Linked DNA regions of Homo sapiens. The protein of the gene in region 1 interacts with the protein of each later gene in a biochemical or structural test. Each region holds a gene or a part of one and is shown on either strand. Other genes may lie near its edges. The genes, in order: COL3A1 and PDGFA.

Region 1 (7,756 bases):
ATTATGTTTTTTATTGACTTAATATGATTTATAGATTGAGTTGAACAACTTTATTCTATGCAAAATATTTCGTACATTCAACCAACTGTGCCTACAACCTATCAACTGAATTATAATAAAATCTATGAAACTCATGTTTGCTACTCTATAGTTAAGGCAACTTTCTTATCAGACTAAATTGCACTTTCTAGTTTTCATGTTTTCCTGTTGTAAAATCAGTATGAAATATCTTCAACCCCTTTAAACAAGTTTTAAATTATTTAAGCTAATTTTGCAAGTAGTGTTATGAAGACCAATTAGAAAAATACCATGTAAACTTTATCAATCATTCTAGATTATTAACAGATTTTAATAATTTTGCTGGTTTTATACATTTCCTAGGGCTTCGATGGACGAAATGGAGAAAAGGGTGAAACAGGTGCTCCTGGATTAAAGGTAAATCACAACAAAAATCATATTTTCATAAGTAAATTCATTAAATATTAAAGCTACATATAAGATTCATATTGTGAGCCTTAACTTGTTTTCTGAAATTTACCTGAATTTTACCTATTAGGTGTGAATAATGGTAACCAATTCAGATATTCTATTAACGCTTCCATGAAAAATGACAACTTGAAGAGTCTAGATTAGAAATAGTTGAGCATCTTAGTATAACTTATCAATTACTTCACTTTAGTCTTTAAGTTTTTAAATACAGAAATTGAGATTTCTGGTAAATAAAATACTAACAGAAAATTAATATTGTTAAAATGTATATCTTTTTCTAGGCTCTATAAACTTTTCCATAATATTCTGTATTTAAAAATATATAATATTTTCTTCCTCTTTTGTAAAATAGTAACATATTTTATATGTATCTAGGGTGAAAATGGTCTTCCAGGCGAAAATGGAGCTCCTGGACCCATGGTAATTATGTTTCTTATGTATAATTTTCAGTTTTATTATTAACCTCATTGTTACCTAAAACTGGCTTTGCTCCCACCCCAACTGTTCTTACACATGTCAAGATTAGAGTAAAACCATATTTCAATTTTACTCTGTAGGGTCCAAGAGGGGCTCCTGGTGAGCGAGGACGGCCAGGACTTCCTGGGGCTGCAGTGAGTATAGCTGCTAACATCACACAATTACAACCCAAAGTGACAGATTTTTACAGCCTCAGTAAAGTTTCAGGCTGTAAAAATATGTTAGGAAAAAGACCTTCCTACAAAATTATACTCAATGATACTGTGATAAAGTTTTGGCTATAGTTAAAAGGAAATGAATAATTGTTTTACAATTATTATCTCTATTGAGAATTTTTGTGTTAACTTTTCATATGTCATTTGAGCCATTATATCTGCATTCAGTCCTGAAAACACAGACTCCAATCCTTCTACATTTGATTGTTGCTGTATATATCAGAATTGTAATAATTGACTTTAAAATACATAATTATTAAGCAGATTTTAATGTACTTGAAGAAAACTCAACTCACTTGAGTCAGAATTTTGGTCAAAATATTACTCATGACCAGCCATTCAGAATTAAAAGGATATTTGATGTAAACTTCTCTTTTTAGGGTGCTCGGGGTAATGACGGTGCTCGAGGCAGTGATGGTCAACCAGTAAGTAACTTTCTATCTCTTATGTGTTGTAGGGTAATGAGAAGTTATGGATTGTGGATTATTTAATATTTTATATATGTATATACTCTTAGGTATATATATATGCATATGTATATCTCTAATATACACATTAGCATCTCTGTTGACCATTTTTACAATTTAAAAAGTGAAAAAATATTGTAGCCCCAATACTTAATATTGTATATACACTCCTGTGATTAAAACTGACACTGAGCCCATAAACAAAATCTAGGTTCTGACACTCATTCTGCTTGATCAACTGCTAACATTTGAATGGTGCTCCCAATGTTAGTTAATATCCTATGTAAGACATGGCACTTTAAAGAGTCCTACAAAATGGATAAAATAGATGTTACCTCCATTTTGTAGACTGGAGTACAAAAGCCCAGGGAAAAGTAGCCTGCACTAAGTCACAGAATTCATGGCAAAGTAGGGAGAAACCAAGAATTTCTAACTTTAGATTTCACTCTTTTCTTATTTTACCACATTGTTTCTCTACATAATATCCATAAAATATGAATATCATTTTTATCTGCATAAATATCTTCTTTACTTTATATGTGCTCACTTATTTACTAGTATGTCAGCTTTCATTTAGTTGAAAAAGAGCTCTTGAAATTGTATTTAATTTTTTCAGGGCCCTCCTGGTCCTCCTGGAACTGCCGGATTCCCTGGATCCCCTGGTGCTAAGGTAAACATGTGTTTCTATAGAAGGGTATAAAAATATCTTGGAGGCAAGAGAAAAGCATTAGATTGCTTCTTGCAACTGATTTTTTTAATCAGTCAAATGGATAGCTTTTATCTATACATGTCTTTAAAGCCCTATTCTTGATTCTAAAAGAGGTGTTGTCCCTAGTATTCAACTATCTTGATATTTCTTCTGCTACCTTCTTTTTTTCCCCAGACTCTTTCTAGGAAACTGATAATGCAATCACACACACATAGTTACATTTTTCTCTGCCTTTACGATTAATGATTCCTTGCTTTACCTGCAGTATAGAGTCCCACTACTCCAACTTTTGGGAGATGTGTTTAAACAGGACTGAAGGGTGAAGTGGCTAAGTGAGTAGAAGTGGTAAGAGAAACTGACTACACAAGGTTTTACCATTAGGGTGAAGTTGGACCTGCAGGGTCTCCTGGTTCAAATGGTGCCCCTGGACAAAGAGGAGAACCTGGACCTCAGGGACACGCTGGTGCTCAAGGTCCTCCTGTAAGTATCATAGTTGAGAGGGAGTAAGCATAGTTTCATGCTTACTCCATGAAAGCATAGTTTCATGCTTACTCCATGAAAGCATGTGCTTCAATATGGCTATCAGTGAAAATTACTTTGAAAAAATTGTTGCTTAGTGCTCTAAAATGATCCTCCTGTGACACATACTGATTTGATTAGTAGTAAAAATGATAGTTTTTGACTGTTGCACTATTCCAGAATTCATGATTTTTTATGTTTATATAAAAGAATAGAGGATAGACTAGTTTTCTGATGCTTTCAAGAATGTGCCCCAAGCTAATCACCAATCATAAAAATTCAGAGAAGAACCAAATTCAAAATCTCTTCTATTTATGTATCATTTAATAATTTATACGAAGTACATATTATCTCTAATTTATTTAGATAATGATGATTCTTTTGACCACATTTCATATGTTGTGTTATAGTTGGAGGATTCACTTAATCTCTACAAAGCATAACACTCATCGATACATTTATTTTCACACAAACAACTTCAAATATATACGAACTATTTGCATTACTATTAATACATTATCTGTTTTTTGTATACTTAGGGCCCTCCTGGGATTAATGGTAGTCCTGGTGGTAAAGGCGAAATGGTAAGCTGTCCCCACTCCTCAGCCTTATCTCATCCACACATTACTGGCTTCTTTTGCATTTTGCATGACAATAGATTTGTGATATTTAAGTGAGATATTCATAAAAGAACATTCAAGTTCGGCTAATATAGTGTCTTTGGTTTGTTCTTAGGGTCCCGCTGGCATTCCTGGAGCTCCTGGACTGATGGGAGCCCGGGGTCCTCCAGGACCAGCCGGTGCTAATGGTGCTCCTGGACTGCGAGGTGGTGCAGTAAGTTGCCTTGTTTTTTCTCTGTTGACTGAAAGGTATAGTTTAATTCCATCAACAAAAAATTAATAGCAAAATTTTGCTCCTGTTCAGTTGAATTTATATTGACTTCACTCTTGTCTTATAACTTATAACTGAATTATGTGTTACTGGTGATGATTTGTTAGTCGAATCCTCCCTGTGTTTCAACCAAGACTTTGTTATACTTTAGGGTGAGCCTGGTAAGAATGGTGCCAAAGGAGAGCCCGGACCACGTGGTGAACGCGTAAGTTTTACTGCAACAGATCTGGTTATTTCTTGAAAAAATGCAACATAATTAGAAAGTAAACAGGTAAAAACTTTGAACTAAATTCAGTCATAATTTCTTTATTTTACCATCTTTTTTTTTTTTCAGGGTGAGGCTGGTATTCCAGGTGTTCCAGGAGCTAAAGGCGAAGATGGCAAGGATGGATCACCTGGAGAACCTGGTGCAAATGGGCTTCCAGGAGCTGCAGGAGAAAGGGTACGTTTTCCATGGGGCATCTAAAAGAAAAGCAGCATCACTGTCATCTAAATAAAACTACCTTCAGGGTGAGACAGCCAATTTTTCTTAAGTTGAGTGTTCAGTGAAAATATTGTTTAAAGCATTCTATGACATAAAAATATTTGCCACTCAAGAATTATGAAAAAGAATTGAAATCCTTTGGACTGAAATACTTGTCTTTCATTATTTTCAGGGTGCCCCTGGGTTCCGAGGACCTGCTGGACCAAATGGCATCCCAGGAGAAAAGGTAGATAACTTTAGTTTCTATGTTCCTAAATGCTAGCACCACAAATGGGCAGTTCTTGTATACAATTTCTCATTCATGAAAACCTAAATATCTGAAGAATATATATTAGAGTTAAGAAAAATTCCTAATATAATGCATCCTCTGTTCAACAACTTTCCTGGCTTTGTAACTAAAGCCACTTACTTACCCTCTATGAGAATCCTTTACTTATCTGTTAATTGGAAAGCATTTATCTGAGCATCGTTGCAAGAGTACAGTAAACTAAAATGCCTGAAAAGTCTTTGAAAACTCTAAGGTTACATCAAATATGATTTCATAGCATTAAGATATTTGATTTTAGCTGCACATAATTATATTTTTAAGCACAGTGAATACTGTTTTATTAAGCATGTGATGTTCACAAAGTTGCTTTAAAATTTTTTCAATATGGCAATCCAAGCTAAGATAACTGATTTTATGTATAAATGTTTCAGCAACACACGAACCCTTTTTAAAAGTTCAAATGACGTCCTCTCTTTGTAACCAAAATATTGTTGCTATCTAGGTTAGTGAAGGCTATTTTAATTTTTTTAAAATTTCTTTCACTACTTAGGGTCCTGCTGGAGAGCGTGGTGCTCCAGGCCCTGCAGGGCCCAGAGGAGCTGCTGGAGAACCTGGCAGAGATGGCGTCCCTGGAGGTCCAGGAATGAGGGTACAGAGAAACATTTGTTTGAATGACACTTTAATTTAGACAGAAGAAAGGCAAGACAAATGAAGACAGATCAAAAGCAACTTAAATCAATCAGATTACATATTTTGTAAGGCACCAAACAAAACAAAATTCTTTTAAGTAAACTTAAGCCGAGATAGTTCAAGGAGAAGAGAAGATAGAACACTTGCCTTAGATACTTTATAGACAGGAAAAAAGATGTGCAAATCTGAGGCTTCACATGTAAGTGAAAATATCAAAATCATACAAATAGTGTATGTAGTAATTTTTTATTATTTCATTTTAAATCACCTAACAACTGACTTCTTTACTTCAGGGCATGCCCGGAAGTCCAGGAGGACCAGGAAGTGATGGGAAACCAGGGCCTCCCGTATGTACATTTTTAAAATCTCATTTTAAAAGGCCAGTTAAAATGGAATGTATATGTTGGCCTATCCTTGAGTGTGTGTGTGTGTGTGTGTGTATATATATATATGTATATGTATATCTATATATATACACACACACACACACACACACATACTATATATATAGCATGCTTTAATCTTCTCTTTATCAAACCTTTATTAATGTAATTTTTTCTTATTAGGGAAGTCAAGGAGAAAGTGGTCGACCAGGTCCTCCTGGGCCATCTGGTCCCCGAGGTCAGCCTGGTGTCATGGGCTTCCCCGGTCCTAAAGGAAATGATGTGAGTTCCTTCATTAATTTCTTCAATAAATATTTGACTGGAAGGCTTTTATTTTCCATATGGAGTAAAGAAATGGTCAAAACTCAGTCTCCTCTTCAAAGCATGGAGGAGTATATGAAAATCAAATTGCATGTAGGAAGGGAGCTAAATATATAATTGGTTATGGTTGTATGTGTGTGTATGGAGCAGGCAGATAAAAAATATGAAACAGGCTGGGTGCGCTGGCTCACGCCTGTAATCCCAGCACTCTGGGAGGCCAAGGCAGGCAGATCACCTGAGGTCAGGAGTTCTAGGCCAGCCTTGCCAACATGGTGAAACCCTGTCTCCACTAAAAATACAAAAATTAGCCAGGCATGGTGGCATGTGCCTGTAATCCTAGCTACCCAGGAGGCTGAGGCAAGAGAATCACTAGAACCCGGGGGGCAGAGGCTACAGTGAGCCAAGATTGCGCCACTGCACTCCAGCCTGGGCGACAGAGCAAGACTCAGTCTCAAAAATATGTATGTGTGTGTGTGTATATATATATATGAGACATATATATATGAGACATATATATATGAGACATATATATATGAGACATATATATATGAGACATATATATATGAGACAATAATATGATTAGTTATTGCCCTTTGAGGATTAGTAAATACCGACCACTTCTTCTTTAGGGTGCTCCTGGTAAGAATGGAGAACGAGGTGGCCCTGGAGGACCTGGCCCTCAGGTACGTAGCTTTCCTCAATTTATTTCTAGCCTTCTAATAGATGCGTTCATCTCCAACCTTCTGACTTCTCTCTGTAATCTGTATTATTTCTACTTCCCTAACTGTTCTTGTTTTTAGGGTCCTCCTGGAAAGAATGGTGAAACTGGACCTCAGGGACCCCCAGGGCCTACTGTAAGTTCACTCATATAAAATTGGAGATGAAAATAGGGTGGAGGTGGGGCAGGAAGAATGCTTCAAAAATTACATAATCTCTGACACCATGTTGTTACAGTTTACCAAAGCAATGATGAAACTTGCTGACCTAGTTATCTAGCTAAATGCTAGCATTGAGTTTAGAGTGTACATGTGTGCTTTGGGTCCAGGTCCTCCCTTTTCTTCACATCACTACTTTTATAATTAAGCAACAGGCCTGTTGAAATGGATACTGTAGACTAAATATAAAAGGATGTTTACAACAGAGTGTATCATTATACTTTTCTAGGGGCCTGGTGGTGACAAAGGAGACACAGGACCCCCTGGTCCACAAGGATTACAAGTAAGAACTTGTTATTTAAATGTCACGGCATATCTGACTGTCAAATTTTTTTGTGTCCCTAATAGATTATAATTTATCTGAAGCTTAACTTGTGATTCTGTCTTTCATCTGGAAATAAAATTTTAGGCAATGTTAATAGGTAGGCATATCTTCCATGTCCGTTCCAGAGCACATTAATAAGTTATTTAAAAGAATTAATGAAACTCAAATAATTCTATTTGGTTACACTTATTTTTATTATAACATAAATCCATATAGCCAAGTCTATCCTGCCATGCTGGTCAATACATTTTTACGTGTAGCAATTGAAAGAACAGAGAGAGATGAAAATGGGTTTGTAAAATATGATTATCACGTATGTGTCACTGGATTTTGAGTGGCACAACGTTTCTACCCCTACAAGACCACTGGAACTTTTTTTTAATATCTTGCAGAAACATGTGTACATATGAGAAGCTTTTCTATAAGCCATGTTTGAGGTAATTACCTAATACAAATATGATTCTTTCTAGGGCTTGCCTGGTACAGGTGGTCCTCCAGGAGAAAATGGAAAACCTGGGGAACCAGTAAGTTACGTTTCATTATTCAAAACTCAGAAACAAAAAGAATACACACTGTTTGTTTG
Region 2 (15,625 bases), on another chromosome or scaffold:
CCAGGCCCCCTTCATGTTCCCGCTTCTGGGAGGCGTCTTCTCCCTGCCCACCCATCCGAGGGTTGGAGGAAAACATCCGGCTTTGGACCCAGGGGGCTTTGGCTGAGGGGACAAAGGTCAGAGGGAACAGGAGGCCCATTTTGGAGGCTCAGCCAAGAGACCGGTCCTGCCGCTGCGGATGGAGGCGGCTGTCAACCTGGCGAGGAGATGGGCCCCAGAGCCTCAGACTCTGTGCCTGTGAGTGGGCATGGATGGGGTCAGCTGAGGTCAAAGGGGTTGGGGCTGGCCGGGAGGGGCCCCCAAAGTCTGTCCACCCAGGATGGGCATGGCATCCCCCATTTCCAGTTTTTATGCCTTTCCGGTCAACATTCAGAGGTCTCTTGTTAGAAGATGGATGGTAGTGAAGCTGGGAGTGTCACTGCCTGGCACAGACCCTGCTGGGATCACCAGGATGTGACTGACCGGCAGCCCTGGGGGAGTGACTGGCCGGGGTCCCTAGCTGGGTGGGTGTTTCCTTGCACTCTGCCTGGCACAGTTAGCTCTTGGTGCCTGGACGCCCGACTCTCCCCCAGACCCAAGCCTCGGGGGTAGGACAGGAGTGTGGGCCTGAACGTGGACCATGGGGATGAGATGCCAGCCCGAGGACTGCAGGGGTCTAGCCTGGACGGAGCTGGCTCTGAGCCCACCTTGCTGTGCTGGAGGCTTCCAGAAGGTGTGTGCTCACCTGGTGCTTGGGATGGGCCTCTGCTCCCTGGAACAGAGTGGCTGGGGTGTTACGGGTGAGAAGCTCCCAGCCACGACTCTGTCCACTCTCTGGGGTCTGGTGCAGGAGTCTCTAGGTGGGCGGAGTGGAGGTCCTCTTGAGCCAGGCTGGGCAGGGGCCTCTTACACGAGCTTGAGGTCTGGGCATTGCTTCCATTCTTAATGGATATGGGGGCAGTGCTGAAGGAGGCAGGATCTTCTTTTTTTTTCTTTGTTATAAAGACAGGGTCTTGCTTTGTTGGCCAGGCTGGTGTCAAATTCCTGGGATCACAGGTATGAACCTCCTCCACGCCCGACTTGAGGGATTTTTTTTTTTTTTTTGAGACAGAGTCTCACTCTGTTGCCCAGGCTGGAGTGCAGTGGCCCGATATCAGCTCACTGCAACCTCCACCTCCCGGGTTCAGGCAATTCTTCTGCCTTAGCCTCTCGAGTAGCTGGGATTACAGACACTCACCACCACGCCTGGCTATTTTTTGTATTTTTTTAGTAGAGATGAGGTTTCGCCATATTGGTCAGGCTGGTCTTGAACTCCTGACCTCAGGTGATCTGCCCGCCTCGACCTCCCAAAGTGCTGGGATTACAGGCGTGAGCCACCGCACCCAGCTGGGGTCCTCATGACCCAAGTCAGCATCTGGATTGAGTGACATTCCAAGTCTCTGTCGAGAGACACCCAGGTGGGGCTGTGGGGCGGTGGGGCCAGGGCTCTGGACTCTAGGCTTTCTTTCCGTGAAAGAGGTGAGAAGGAGTGCAGGCTAGGGATGGAGATTCAACGCTGTGTGACTCTGGGCAAGGGGCTTCCCTTGTCTGTGCTGTGTGTTCTCATCTCTAGAATGGACCACGATGGTGTCCTCACAGGGTAGCTGTGAGGGTTACAGTGACGGGCACGTGCGGTCCAGTCAGGTGTCTTTCATGGCTAATACTCTGTCTTGGAGCCTTGAAAGGGTCAGGCCGTAACCTGGAGTTGGGGTGGGGTCCCCCGCAGGGAGTGGCTGTCCCAAGCCCTCCTCAGGGGGTCTCTGCAGCTTCTGGGCTTTGTAGCAGTAGGGACTCGGCATCCCAGGTCTAGAGGGGTGACGGCATCCCTGGGTTGTAGTCTTGGGTGAGTTCGCGCCGGGAGTGTTGAGGTGGGGCGGCTTACGACGCAGATGAACTCAGCCGTGGGGAATCGGAATGTCTGGTGTGATAAGGTGCAGCCCACATCTCTGGGACGGAAAAAGGGGAGGGACATGGGGACCCCCCCCATCACTTGGGCTTCGGCTTGGGGCCTGGGGGCCGGGGTACCCCCCGTGGGGGTCCTGAGGACATTGTAGTCTGTTCTTTGGACTTGGCCTTCTTTTATGGAGGAGGTTTTTGTGAGAATCCAATATTCATTTTGTGTTCTTGGGAGAAAAATGTAGCTATTTCCTGGCCAGACAGAGGTGGCGGAACGGCCCGGAATCCTGGCATACTCAGAAACAGGTGCAATCATCGCTGTTTGTTTTTGTTTGATAAAAACGGGCTTGTCTGAGGAGGCAGTGGGTTCCCAGACGAGCGGCCGTGCCATGTGCCTTTCGCACGGTGCCCAGAGGGGTGGCATTTCTGTTGTGTCCTGGGAGCCCACGCGCCCGCGGTGGCCGGCCATCTCGAGTGGTTGAGAGCGAGCCTGCCCCTCGCCTGGGCGTCTGGTGTCTGGCCAGACGGGCCTGCGGTCTCTGCCGAGCCAGGCCCTGGTATCTGCCCTGCCGAGGGAACTAGGTGAGGCTGCTTGTTGACCAAAGAGGCTGTGCCATCCGGAGGGTCAGGGCCGGGAGCAGAACAGGGCGCCCTGCCCGAGCCCATCCCCACGAACCCAGATTTCAGAGCCCACCTGCCCCATGCCTCACTTGGCCACCCCTGCAGAGGCTGGGGGTGGGTGGGAGCAGCAGAGTATGGGTGCTTCGAGCCTGGGAGATGGCAGGGTGTGAGGCTGGTGCTGTTCCTCCTGCTGGGACCTGTGTCCAGGGCCTCCAGGGGAGGGGAGGAAGGAACTCGGTCCCTGCTGAGGCAGGAGGGGGCTGGGCCTGGTTTTGCGCACTGGGATCCCTAGTTACTTACTACCTGGGCAGTTCTTGACTCAGGGAGGGCTGAGGACATGCTTGCAGGGCTGGGGGTGGCTGAGGTCCCAGGTGGCCCTGCTGCTCCTCTTGGGGCTTTGCTGCAGTTCATCCTCGGGCCGGGCCTCTCCGACCCCAGGCCCTCAACAGGAGGGTGGCTCTAGACCCACTCTCTGCCTGTGGTGGGTGGGTGGTGGTACTGTGCTGAGCTTGGGGACCAGGGGGTGGGTTGGTTTTGGGGCTCTGGATTAGAATCCACGCCAGTGGCAGCCCACTCTTGAAGGCTGGCTTTGTCCTCGTTTCTGGGGCCTTCTGCATGTGCAGCCTCATTTATTCCTCAACTCCTGGGTGGGTGTGATTGGTCTCCGTTTTACAGATGGGAGGTGGAAGTGTGTGCACGGCCTGCGGAGGCCTCTCTCTGGAGGATTCTGTCCTGGGGAAAGGGGCAGATTGCCGCGGGAGTGTGGAGGCTGATCTGAGGCCTCCCGAGTGGAACGGAGCCCCATGTAGGAAGCGGCAGTGTCCTGGCCGCTTTCTCTCACGCTTTGTGACGTAGCGAAACCTCCCAGGCCAGGTCCTGTTTCTGAGCTGGCTCCTGACCCCAGGCGCCCCACGCCCTGCAACTGTTGAGCTCATACTTGGCTGTCTGCTCACGCCCCAGGCAGCCCAGACCACTTCACACGCCTGCAGGCACCCTTTGCACTGTGGGTTAACCATTAACTCAGCCTCGGACAAGCCTGGTCCCCAGCGCCTTAGGGACCGGCTTACCTTCGGAGCCTGCCTGGTCCCAGGGTGCAGAGCTGACCTTCTCCCTGGGGGCCCTGCTGATGCCCAGTCTCCAGAGTCTGGAGTCCCCCCTTCCCCCCAAGAAGGTTGGGAAACATTCCCCTCCTCCCTCCTTCACCCTCCTGACTGCCTGGGAGGCAGGGCCACTGGGCTGGGGGCATCTGGCCTTGGGCTGAGGTCTCCTCATTCACCCAGCAGCGTGCATTCCCCCACGCCCCTGTGCTCAGGGGGTGACCCGGCCTCCGTTTCCTTTCTAGCCTCAGTTTCCCCATGAACCGTGAGGGGTGAAGTGGGTGATCCATAGTGGCTGTTCTTGCATTTAGACCCTGCATGCGGCAGGGCTGGTTCCGTGGGCACAGATGGAGCGCCTGCTGGGTGCTCAGCTCCCCAGGGCCTGGGAGGGCAGGAAGGTGGTGGCTATTCCCTGGTGTGTGCTCCAGGGGGCAGGTGGGACAGCCTAGCAATTAGGGACAGGCTTAGTTAGAGCTTGCCTGCGCCTCAGTTTGTTCTGTAAATGGAGGTGCCAGTCTTGCCTCCTTGTAGCATGGTTGGGAGGATGAAATGAGTGCTGGGGTTTGGGCTGGGAGAGCCAATACTCTACTCATGCAGTCCCTGGCTGTGTATTAGGGGTCTGTTGATGCCAGGCGTGTGCGTGCTTGCACTCTGTGTGTGTAGTAAGATTCCCACGATGGGGCCCCTGTGTACATTACACATGCATGACTGGTGGGGGGTGGAGTTGCCTCCCCATGACAGGGTATGTGTGTGCATTATACAGGTGTGTGTGTGGGGTGGAGTTGTGTTCCCGTGACAGGGCCTATATGTGCATTATGTGTGTGTGTGTGTGTGTGTGTGTGTGTGTGTGTGTGTGTGATTTCTTGCCTCTCTTGTTGAATGCCTGAAGCTCCCCTCTCTGGCCTGGACTGGGCCATTGTCTGCCTGCAGCTCCCCGGGGAAGGGGCTGTGGAGGCAGGACCCCCATGTTGTGGTTTTGTGCCTGGAGAATTGAGGGCAGGCGTGGCTCGCAGACAGGCAAAGTCCAGTCCGAAGAGGGGAACCCAGCTGAGGTCTGGTTCGCTTTTGAGCTGCCTGTGCCTGATAGCCACGGCCTGCTGGCCTGTGCTCCTCCTGGATCATCTTGTGTAGCCTCGGTGATGGCCCAGGATCCCTGGCCCTGGTTTCCGAGGTCAGGCCTCTCCGAGCCCAAGGAGAGCCTCGGACCTGGGGGAGCCATGAGGGGACCCTGGGTATGGGTCTGCTGGCCCTGCTGCCTGGGGCCGGCGGGGAGGTGGGGCCCTCATCAGGCCAGCAGCTGGGATTATCATCTGGACGCTCAAGTCCACAGCAACCTTGGGCTAGGATACAGCCACGAACCCCCCATTCCTAGGCCATGGCTTTAAATTTTTTTTTAATATTAATAGAGACAGGGTCTTGGTGTATTGCCCAGGCTGGAGTGCAGTGGTGTGATACCAGCTCACTGCAGCCTCAAACTCCTGGGCTCAAGCGATCCTCCTACCTCAGCCTCCCAAGTAGGCTGGGACTACAGGTGCCACCATGGCTTGCTAATTTTTAAATTGTTTTTAGAGGCAGGGTCTTACTATGTTGCCCAGGCTGGTCTTGAACCCCTGGAGTTAAGTGATCCTCCCGCCTTGGCCTTCCAAAGTGCTGGGATTACAGGCGTGAGCCACCATGCTCAGCCTGGCTTTTAAAATGTATTTAAAAACAACGTGATCATTTGAAAACATTTCCCAGCTGCACATCCACACACAAGCAAACACTTTCCCTGGCCACCTGCACCCCAGAACTCCCAAACTTCCACACCTTAGCAGTGTGCATCCTTCAGCCCCCCCAGGCACACGTGAACCTTTGGGTTTATTTTAAACAAAAATAGGATGAGTCTGCTAAATACCATGCTCCAACACCAGGCGCGGCGGCTCTCACTTGAAGTTCCAGCACTTTGGGAGGCTGAGGCAGGAGGATCACTTGAGTCCAGGAGTTCAACATCAACCTCGGCAACATAGCGAGATCTCATCTCTTCCACACAAAAAAAATATTTAAAATTAGCTGGGCATGGTGGCCTGTGCTTACAGGTGGGAGGCTGAGGTGGAAGGATCACTTGAGCCCAAGAGCTTGAGGCTGCAGAGGCTATGATTGGCCTAGGTGACAGGGTGAGACCCTACTCAGAAAAAACTAAAACACACACACACAAAACTGCACTGCAGCTTGTAGGTTTTTCACCTGGTACTGCTACACTCCCCACCACAAGGTAGTGTTTCTGGGAGGAGGTCAGGGGTCAGGCTGCTCTCTCCTCCCTCTCAGCCTGTCCCCGGCTCCCAGCACGTCGTGATGTCCGAAGCTCCATGCAGGCATTCATGGCCGGGCTCTGTTCTCTCTGGCAGGTGGCCAAGGTGGAATACGTCAGGAAGAAGCCAAAATTAAAAGAAGTCCAGGTGAGGTTAGAGGAGCATTTGGAGTGCGCCTGCGCGACCACAAGCCTGAATCCGGATTATCGGGAAGAGGACACGGGTGAGTGGCTGCCTTCGTCGGCATCGGTGTTGGAGAACAGGTCTTCAGAGCCTTGCTTTTGGGGTGTTAGGTGGCCCCCTTGAGCGCAACGCTTACTGCTGTGAGCATCTGGGCTGCTGTTGAAGGATTCGTTGCCCTGCTCCCGGGCCAGATGCCTGCGGGGGAGACGGATCCCACACCTGCAGGTGTCCGGTGGGGAGGGTGGCCCAAGCTGCGGCACTGGCAGGAGAGGAGATTCAGGTCTCACTGAGAGGGGCTGGGAGTGCATAAGACACCCAATTCATTAGTGGGCTGCGGGGCTGAGCTGAGAAGAATCTGCAGAAGGGCCTCCTGCCAGGGTGGGCGGGAGGAGCAGGTTCGAGGACTGCAGTTGCCCTGGCTGGCTGGGGTCTCTCCTTCACCCCGCCACGCGGACTCCACCCAGGAGCAGAATGGCTTCTGTGCCCTGCTATGGCTGGGCCCTGGGAGCATGAGGGGACTCAGAAGTTTCTCGGTGCCAGGGTGCTGGCCTTCTCTTCTGGAAAGATAAACAAATGCCGTAGGTATTTGTTGCTTCAGTTCTTCACCCCGACGGCCGTCCCTCGGCCCACTCACCGCCCTGCCCTTTTGTTAACAGGAAGGCCTAGGGAGTCAGGTAAAAAACGGAAAAGAAAAAGGTTAAAACCCACCTAAAGCAGCCAACCAGGTAGGACTGTCTGCCGGACACACTGAGTCCTGCAGGGCGGGGAGGTGCAACTGACTGATCACACCAGCAAATCACGCTTCCTGTCTCGCCGGGTGCGGCGGGGATGTGGCCCTGATTGGCCTTGATGGTGTCTGCTGGGCTTGGGTCTCCTTGCTCCCCGTCCGCTCCTGCCTCGCAGAACGCCCTGGCCCGTGGCTCACTCCCGCTTGGGAGCCTGCCTCCAGCTTTGTCCTTCTCTTTGTCGTTGATTGGGGATGCAGGAGCATTGCACATGAATGGAACAGGTTGGGCGACCTGAGCAGCGGTGGGGCAGCTCTGAGCGCCTGGCCACTCTGGGATCACCCACCCCATTTGACAGATGAAAAAACTGAGGCTTAACTGAGATTACAGATAAGGACTGTTGGAGGCTGAATATATCTGGAAATCCTTTATAAACGTGCAGGGCTGTTGGCTACTGTGTTGGAAATTGCATTTGGCTGCTAGTAACACCAGACAGCACAGGGATTGAGATAAGATCGAGCTTCATGACTTTCATCTAAGGGTGGGATTGCAGAGCAGGGAGGGTAGTCTTGAGGTATCATCAGTGTCCGCCTTCTGTCTGGCTAGTGGCATCCATCTGCAGTTGCCTCATGGCCCAAGGTGGCTGCTAAAGCTCCAGAAACCACATCTGTGCTCCAGGCTGGAAGAAGGAGTGAGCGGGGGGGGGGGGGAAGGGCAAAATAACACCCTTAGAGAGCTATCCTGGAAATCCCACCCAGTGACTTTTGTGTTTTTCTCAGCTGCCATCCCTCCACTGCAAGGGAGCTTGGGAAATGTCTCCTAGCAAGACATGTCGCTTCCCAGATGGAGGTGGGACCTGGGCAGCCGCCATCATCACGGAGGAGGCAGTTTCAAGCCTTCCTGGTCCTTGGCATTGGCCCGTCTGGCTTGGGAAAGTTGGAGCCCTGTCTGGCCTGGTTCCCCCTCCTGGCACGTGGGACTCCATGGTGGCCAAAACAAATAGTTTCTTTAGAAGAGAGGAGGATCTCAGAGATAGGGTGTCTGAGAACCCTGGCTCCTGTTTGCAATGTGGGACTTGGGCCTGCGGGTGAGGTCCATTCATGAGGAGCCTCTTGGGAGGAAATTGTCCACTTGGGCGGGTCTTTGAAGCAGTCCAGGACTGTTGGTCAGCCTTGGCTTTGTTTGCTGAAAGTGTGGCCTGGTGGGTGGTTTTGTGCCTGCCTGTGGGTCCCATTTCTACAGAGCGTTAGGCTCTGGCCTCCATGGGCCTGCTGGTGACAGACCCCATGGTGAGAGGCTGGCACTCCTGTTGTCCCATGCCTGGCTGGTACTCATGTTCAGCCTATAGGCAGCCCACGTGTTGGAGTGTGCGATGGAGAGGCCACATGGGATGTGGAAGAATTGTTCTTAAACGATCAGCATAGGTCTGCCTGGGTGCAGACTCTTCTGTCTGGCTGGTGGCCTCCATCCTCAGGGTTGTCTCATGGCCCAAGGTGGCTGCCAGAGCTCCAGAAATCACATCTAAGCCCTAGGCTGGAAGAAAGGAAGGCAGAGAGAAGGGCAAATGAGCCATTCTTGGCCTCAGTTTCCCCCATCTGTACAATGGGAGAATGGGGCTTGGTCTCTAGACATGTTCTGTGAGATGCTGTGAGCCTAATCCCAATTCCTGTCAGGGTACTGCAACATGGCCAATGTGGCAAATGTGATTCTGGAAATTTCTTGAAAACTTGAAATCCCTGTGTGCCCCTGATTGGGTTAAATGTTTTCACCCTGTTTTCCTCCTATGCAGCCATGTGTGTGCTGGGTGGTTCACTTGGTCGGTGGTCTCAGTGTCTGTCTTTCCCTTCTCCCTGCAGATGTGAGGTGAGGATGAGCCGCAGCCCTTTCCTGGGACATGGATGTACATGGCGTGTTACATTCCTGAACCTACTATGTACGGTGCTTTATTGCCAGTGTGCGGTCTTTGTTCTCCTCCGTGAAAAACTGTGTCCGAGAACACTCGGGAGAACAAAGAGACAGTGCACATTTGTTTAATGTGACATCAAAGCAAGTATTGTAGCACTCGGTGAAGCAGTAAGAAGCTTCCTTGTCAAAAAGAGAGAGAGAGAAAGAGAGAGAGAAAACAAAACCACAAATGACAAAAACAAAACGGACTCACAAAAATATCTAAACTCGATGAGATGGAGGGTCGCCCCGTGGGATGGAAGTGCAGAGGTCTCAGCAGACTGGATTTCTGTCCGGGTGGTCACAGGTGCTTTTTTGCCGAGGATGCAGAGCCTGCTTTGGGAACGACTCCAGAGGGGTGCTGGTGGGCTCTGCAGGGGCCCGCAGGAAGCAGGAATGTCTTGGAAACCGCCACGCGAACTTTAGAAACCACACCTCCTCGCTGTAGTATTTAAGCCCATACAGAAACCTTCCTGAGAGCCTTAAGTGGTTTTTTTTTTTGTTTTTGTTTTGTTTTTTTTTTTTTTGTTTTTTTTTTTTTTTTTTTACACCATAAAGTGATTATTAAGCTTTCCTTTTTACTCTTTGGCTAGCTTTTTTTTTTTTTTTTTTTTTTTAATTATCTCTTGGATGACATTTACACCGATAACACACAGGCTGCTGTAACTGTCAGGACAGTGCGACGGTATTTTTCCTAGCAAGATGCAAACTAATGAGATGTATTAAAATAAACATGGTATACCTACCTATGCATCATTTCCTAAATGTTTCTGGCTTTGTGTTTCTCCCTTACCCTGCTTTATTTGTTAATTTAAGCCATTTTGAAAGAACTATGCGTCAACCAATCGTACGCCGTCCCTGCGGCACCTGCCCCAGAGCCCGTTTGTGGCTGAGTGACAACTTGTTCCCCGCAGTGCACACCTAGAATGCTGTGTTCCCACGCGGCACGTGAGATGCATTGCCGCTTCTGTCTGTGTTGTTGGTGTGCCCTGGTGCCGTGGTGGCGGTCACTCCCTCTGCTGCCAGTGTTTGGACAGAACCCAAATTCTTTATTTTTGGTAAGATATTGTGCTTTACCTGTATTAACAGAAATGTGTGTGTGTGGTTTGTTTTTTTGTAAAGGTGAAGTTTGTATGTTTACCTAATATTACCTGTTTTGTATACCTGAGAGCCTGCTATGTTCTTTTTTTGTTGATCCAAAATTAAAAAAAAAAATACCACCAACAAAACCCGTGGACGTGAGAAGCGTTTTGTGGTACGTTTTTCTAGCACTGAGTCTAGACCCTGGTTGCCAGGTCATGCGGTGCTGTGTTGGGTGGAAACGGAGGTCAGAGCTTTCTGGGTGGGGTCCCTGGACCTGCCTCCATGGTGGCACCCGTGGGATGCCTGCCTACCTCGGACTTCAGCACCTATGGGGGTTAGGCCGAGGACATCCTCCTGCAGGCTCCACTCCCTGGAGCGGATGAGGAGTGTCAGAGTAGCCAGAAGACCATGAAGAGTTTCATCCAAGAAGGGAGCCCACCTGTCTTGGTGTGTCCATGTGCAGCACTCACCATACCCTGCCCGGGCTGGCCCCTCCACCACCTCCAGGCCCACGAGACAAACCATCGAGGTTGCTTTCAATCTTGACCCCGCGTTCTTCGAGGACCATCTGTGGACTGGCGGCCGGCTGGCGTCTGTTGTCCATGTGCTGCTGGAAGGTTCTTACGAAGGATTATCTTCAACAGCTCATCTTCATGGTGCTGTTTTCAGCCTCGTCAGGGCAGCCTGGAGGCTGGAGGGGAAGTGCAGGGCCAGGTGGTTGCAAGCTGGTTCCTGTTCCTTGGACACCTGCTGGGGCCCTGCCTGGGCCTGTGGGCTGCTGTCCAGATCTGCACCGGTTACAGCGCCTTGCCCAGGAATGTGCATTGGATGTGACGTGTGGCAATGTAACATGTATTTGTTTCCATGAGATGCTGGCGACAATGCTCCATTTTTCTTTTTTGTATAAAGTCGTCTGGTGTAATACCGTGTCCATTAAAGTGATGGGGCAGAAAAGCCAGGTGGGGAAGAGAGAATTCCATAAGAATTCCATAGGTCTGGAGCCCAGGGGTGGCTGAGGTAGCAGTAGAGGTGGGAACTCAGGCCTGCTTTCTCTCCCTACTTACTCCTTCCCTCCCTCACTCCCTCCTTTTCTCCCTCATTGGTTCATCCATGCAGGCGAGGGCCCTAGTGCCAGCCCCTCCTGTCCCGACATGGGGAGAGCCCTGGGGAGGGGCAGGCAGAGTGGAGGCCACTCCAGCCAGGAAGGGCTGCAGTGTGGCGGGGGCTGTGGTCTGAGGCTGGATCCTTTCCGAGCCTCTCCACCCACGTGGGCCTGCAGCCTTTGTCGCGGCTCTGCCCTGCGTTCCCGGGATTTCTGCTCCTGCCTGGGCCCCCTCCCGGCCCCTAGCCCTGGGCTGCACCTGGATCTGGGCTCAGGAAGGTGACTTTCTGCCCAGGGTCAGCTCTTCATGTCTTGTGAGCCCTGTGACCTTGACCGAGGGGCCTCCATCTGCATGTCGGCGTGCACATCTGTGAAACGGAGCTGCAGCTCAGGCAGGGTAAGGACGCCTCGCCATTGACTCACCTGGTGCAGGTCTTGTCTGCTGCCTCCTCCTGCTGGGACTTCACTCCAGCCTCTAGTGTTTCTAGGCCCCAGCATGGCAGAGGACAGAGCCCTTGGGCTCAGGGATTGCTGAGCGGCGATGGTGCCGCCTGTTAAAACGAGGTTCCTGCACCTGCCTGGACACCTGAATGCACCTGCTCACACCGTGCCCTTGCCAGGGGTCATGAGAGCTGGGGCCCAGCCTTTGCTGGGCTTCTCCTTTAGCTTGGGGGTGTTTCCTTTTCTTCACCCAGGCCTCTGTGTCCTGGCTGTGGAGGGGGTTGGAACTGGCTGGGAGAGTCAGTGACGGCAGGTGGTCTCCAGCCGTGGGTCCCTACAGCTGTCTTGGGATTCCCAGCGGTAGGTGAAGCCGAGGCCTGGGTCTTTGCCTGGGTCCAGTGCGCAGAGCAGTTGCTGGGCTGGGCCAGGCTCGGGGATCCCGTTCTGCAGAGAAGCCCTTCTGGTTTGTGCCCTCTTGTCAAGCACAAGAAGCCACGGCCCTCCTGGGACCTCCTTGGTTTTTTTGGGCTTTTCATACTTAGCCATGGGTTCCTCCAAGAATTCTAGGGGTGGGAACTTGAGGGCTTGGCTCCCATTTTAAAGATGAGTGAGCTGTGCCCCTGGCAGGCCCGGAACGCCTAGGGGGCCCCAAGTAGAAGGGTCGCAGGACACAGAGAGGCAGGACTTGTGCTGTGGCCGGGCATCCAGGGGCCCTTCCATCTCCTGGGCCTTGACTCTGCCCCACCCCAGGGGTGGGCTGGGCCCCAGACTCCGGAGCAGCATTGGGGCGGGAGCTCCCCAAGTGCCTGCAAACAGCAGGGCCAGCCAGGCTCTTCTGGGGTTGTGTCCTGGGCAGGTGCCCAGCCTGGGACTGAAGCTCCTTGCCCTGCACCTATCACCAAAGGGCCAAGATTCACAGAGATTTGCCTCTGCATGCTCCCTGGAAATGGGGTCAGCAAGGACCAAGATACAGACCCCAGGGAAGATGGCGACCTCCAGGTCCAAAAGGAAGAGCAGGTATTTGAACTCAAGTAGCAAAAATCACAGAATTTCCTGCACCCCACAGACCCCCGTTCCCTCACAGAAGCCCCCCATCCTCTCACAGAACCCTGGTCCCCTCGTAGATCCCCTGTCCCCTGACAGATCCCCTGTCCTCTCACAGATTCCCCCGTCCCCTCACAGATCCCCTGTCCTCCTCACAGATCCCCCATCCCCCTCACGGATCCCCCGTCCCCCTCACAGATCCCCCGTCCCCTCACGGATCCCCTCCATCCCCCTCACGGATTCCCCCGTCCCCTCTGTACAGCCGTTTCCAGGAAGTCCTGGTCCTGAGGTCCCCGGGTTTCCGGGATGGGCAGGAGGAGGGGACACAGGCCCAGTCCTGAGAACGGGGACCCCAGGCTCCCGATACGTGGACGCGGCCCGGGGCCAAGGCTGGACCGGAAGTGGCAGGTTCCCGCCGCCTGTGGGTTCCGCCGCTTCCCGGGGCGCCCGGCGAGGGTGACAGACCCCGGGAGCGCTGTGACCGCCACCCGTGCCCAGCGATGAAGCTGAAGGTGGCCTCCTCCGTTTGCAGGGAGAATTTTGGTTCCAGGCTCCGGCGCCCCGGGGGCGGGCGGGCTAGGAGGGTCGGTGCGGGCGAAGGAGGCCTGGCCCTTGCGGCTCCCGTGCCGGGGACCCTGGAGGTGGGCGCGCCTCGGCCCCCAGCCCCAGCGGCCGACGCCGGGCTCCTCCCACGGCCCAGCCAGCGCCTCACAGTCCGGTGGCCCTGCCCCTGCGGCCACGCTGGCCGGCTCCTGACGCCTCAGAGCCTCAGTTTCCCCCCTAGCCGTCGGGAGGCGGGTGCGCCGCAGGATGAACCCGTGAGTGGCGCTGAGCAGGGTGGGCGGCGGCTGTGGCAGCCCGGGAGGACGTGGGTCCCCAGAGCGCCGAGGCGGGAGGAGAGTCCCGAAGAGCATCCGCGAGGGGTCGCCAGCCGGGGAGAGTGGTGGGGCCTCTGAGCCGGGAGGGGGCCGAAGCGTCTCCCACGACCTCGGCGCGGTGCCTGGTCTCCGCGGGGTCCGGCTTCCCGGTGCCCCCTTACCCTGCGCTTCTCCAAGCTGACAGCCCCAGGTGTGGGGCCTGGGGTGGGGCCTGGCATGGCCTCGTGCCTCCTACTCTTAGGTCCAGGGGTGCCATGAACCACCCCCCAGCCCTGCCGCGGGATCGTCCCCCAGTGTCCAGGGGACCCGCCTGCCTCGCCCAGCCTTTCTTTTCTTTTCTTTTTTGAGACGCAGTCTGGCTCTGTCGTCCAGGCTGCAGTGCCGTGACACGATCTCTGCTCACTGCAACCTCCGTCTTTCGGGATCAAGTGATTCTTCTGCCTCAGCCTCCCGAGTAGCTGGGACTACAGGCACTTGCCACCACGCCGGGCTAATTTTTTTGTATTTTTAGTAGAGACAGGGTTTCACCATGTTGGCCAGGCTGGTCTCCAACTCCTGGCCTCTGGCGATCCTCCCGTCTCGGCCCCTCAAGGTGCTGGAATGAGAGGTGTGAGCCACCGCGCCAGGCCCCACCTTTCACTTTGGCTCCATCCGGAGTCCTGGGATCCGCTGGGTCTGAGTCCCATGTACCGTTTCTGTTGTGGGATAGATTTCCATCAGAAGCACAAGACAGAAAATGGGGGAGGACGGGGTTTCCCGAGGAAATCGGGGTGCCGTTCATAGATGAGGCTACTAAGTGGGATGTTGGGGGTTGCCTTGGCCTGGGTGCCCCAGAGGCAGAACCTGAAGGACAGAGTTGTGGGCATATGGTTTACGGGAGGGCAGATACCAGCAATACAGGGAGGGGCTGGGGTGTGAAATGTTCAAGTGGGAGACCTCACTGAATCAGCTCCGGGCTCCAAATCCTGAGACCTGGAGCCTGCACACATGAATGCCGGGAGGTTCCAGGATCCCCCCAGAGGCTTGGAGAAGGCCTGGGCAGGAAGCCAGGTGGCAGCAGCAGGAGCTGAGCAGAGGTGGGCAGGAGGATACATGCAGCCCGAGGGCAGATCCCGTGTATGCATGGCCCCAACTGCTCCGGGTCCTGCACCAGCCTCCCCATGGCTGGCTGCTTCTCACCTGGACAACCTTGTCGCCCACCCATCTGCGTGCCATCTTCAGCCACCTGCTCTCCCAAGAGCAGCCAGGGTTATCTTCTCCAAACCCAAGGCCACCTTGCTCTCCCCACCCCTCCTAGAGCCCCTGCTGCTCTGTAGGCTTAGAACAAAGTTGAGAAGCTTCCAGGGCTCCGGGCCCTGTCTGACCCTGACTGTCCCAGTCACACCCTGGCCCCTGTCTGCCACCTCATGACCTCAGCTGAGCTGGCTTTGTCGTGGCACAGGGGAACCGGAGCAGGGGGGCTGCCCAGGCTGAAGGAACGGGGTTGAAGCGCAGGACTTTTCTGATGGGGCGGCAGCTGGGAAAACGGAGTGAGTGGCCGGGGAGGGCTGTTTATGGGATGGCCGTCTGCAGGGCCTTGGCAACCAGAGCCCCCCGTCCAGACCTCCAAGCTTGCCTGGTGACAGGGCCCGGTGTGAGCTGGACCACAGGTACTTGGTAGGCCTGGTCTGGGTTGGGGTCAGGGAGTCAGAGTGCTTGGGAGACAGGTGCCCCCTCCCAGGTTCGGCCAAGCATGGGGTGAGAGTACTGGGCTCTGCTGGGCTCTGCCCAGCTGTTTGATGTTGGATGACCTCACTGTGACCTTGGGCTGCACCACTGCCCTGGTTGGAAGAGAGGGAGGCTCGGTGGGATGGGCTGAGCTCCAGGACCGCCAACCCTTACCCCCCTTTGCCCACCTGTGAGTGGCTTCCCTGATGGAAAGACTGAGTGAGAGGACTCCTTAGTGGCCGGCCCTTGTAGAGGCACAGAGCTGCAGGAGCTGTGGTGAGGGCCGGCACCATGAGACCTCTAGACCCCAGGCTCTTGAAGCGTCCCTGCCTGCCCTCCCTGAAGGACTTCCCAGGCCACCTTGCCCTGCCCAGCGCTGGGGGCTGAGTCCTTTCTGGGCACACCAGGTCACTTGGCAGAGTCCCTGGCCCCGAGCGGGCACTGAAGGAGGCCCTCGCACTTCTGGGGGCCCTGGGTCTTCGCCGTCAGCATTTGAGGCTGCTCCCGTTCTCCCTGGGGTGGGAGCCGGGACCCAGCGGGGCCTCAAAGGTGACTGCAGCAAGCGGGAGTTGGCCTGCCCCCTGGACTCCCACCCTGG

What was found.
Region 2: the proteins of COL3A1 (region 1) and PDGFA form a complex in vitro, tested with the Homo sapiens proteins (one study listed by BioGRID).

Annotation. Positions count from the first base shown.
Region 1 is NC_000002.12:188,990,623-188,998,378, forward strand, and holds part of COL3A1 (collagen alpha-1(III) chain preproprotein), read left to right. Parts: intron 1-381; coding exon 382-435; intron 436-864; coding exon 865-909; intron 910-1,046; coding exon 1,047-1,100; intron 1,101-1,561; coding exon 1,562-1,606; intron 1,607-2,264; coding exon 2,265-2,318; intron 2,319-2,738; coding exon 2,739-2,837; intron 2,838-3,415; coding exon 3,416-3,460; intron 3,461-3,611; coding exon 3,612-3,710; intron 3,711-3,918; coding exon 3,919-3,972; intron 3,973-4,101; coding exon 4,102-4,209; intron 4,210-4,423; coding exon 4,424-4,477; intron 4,478-5,007; exon of another isoform or gene 5,008-5,069; coding exon 5,070-5,168; intron 5,169-5,502; coding exon 5,503-5,556; intron 5,557-5,775; coding exon 5,776-5,874; intron 5,875-6,542; coding exon 6,543-6,596; intron 6,597-6,713; coding exon 6,714-6,767; intron 6,768-7,077; coding exon 7,078-7,131; intron 7,132-7,643; coding exon 7,644-7,697; intron 7,698-7,756. UniProt on the Homo sapiens protein: Collagen type III occurs in most soft connective tissues along with type I collagen. Involved in regulation of cortical development.
Region 2 is NC_000007.14:491,634-507,258, reverse strand, and holds the end of PDGFA (platelet-derived growth factor subunit A isoform 2 preproprotein), read left to right. Parts: intron 1-6,016; coding exon 6,017-6,143; intron 6,144-6,759; coding exon of another isoform or gene 6,760-6,815; exon of another isoform or gene 6,816-6,828; intron 6,829-8,684; coding exon 8,685-8,695; 3' UTR 8,696-10,001; downstream 10,002-15,625.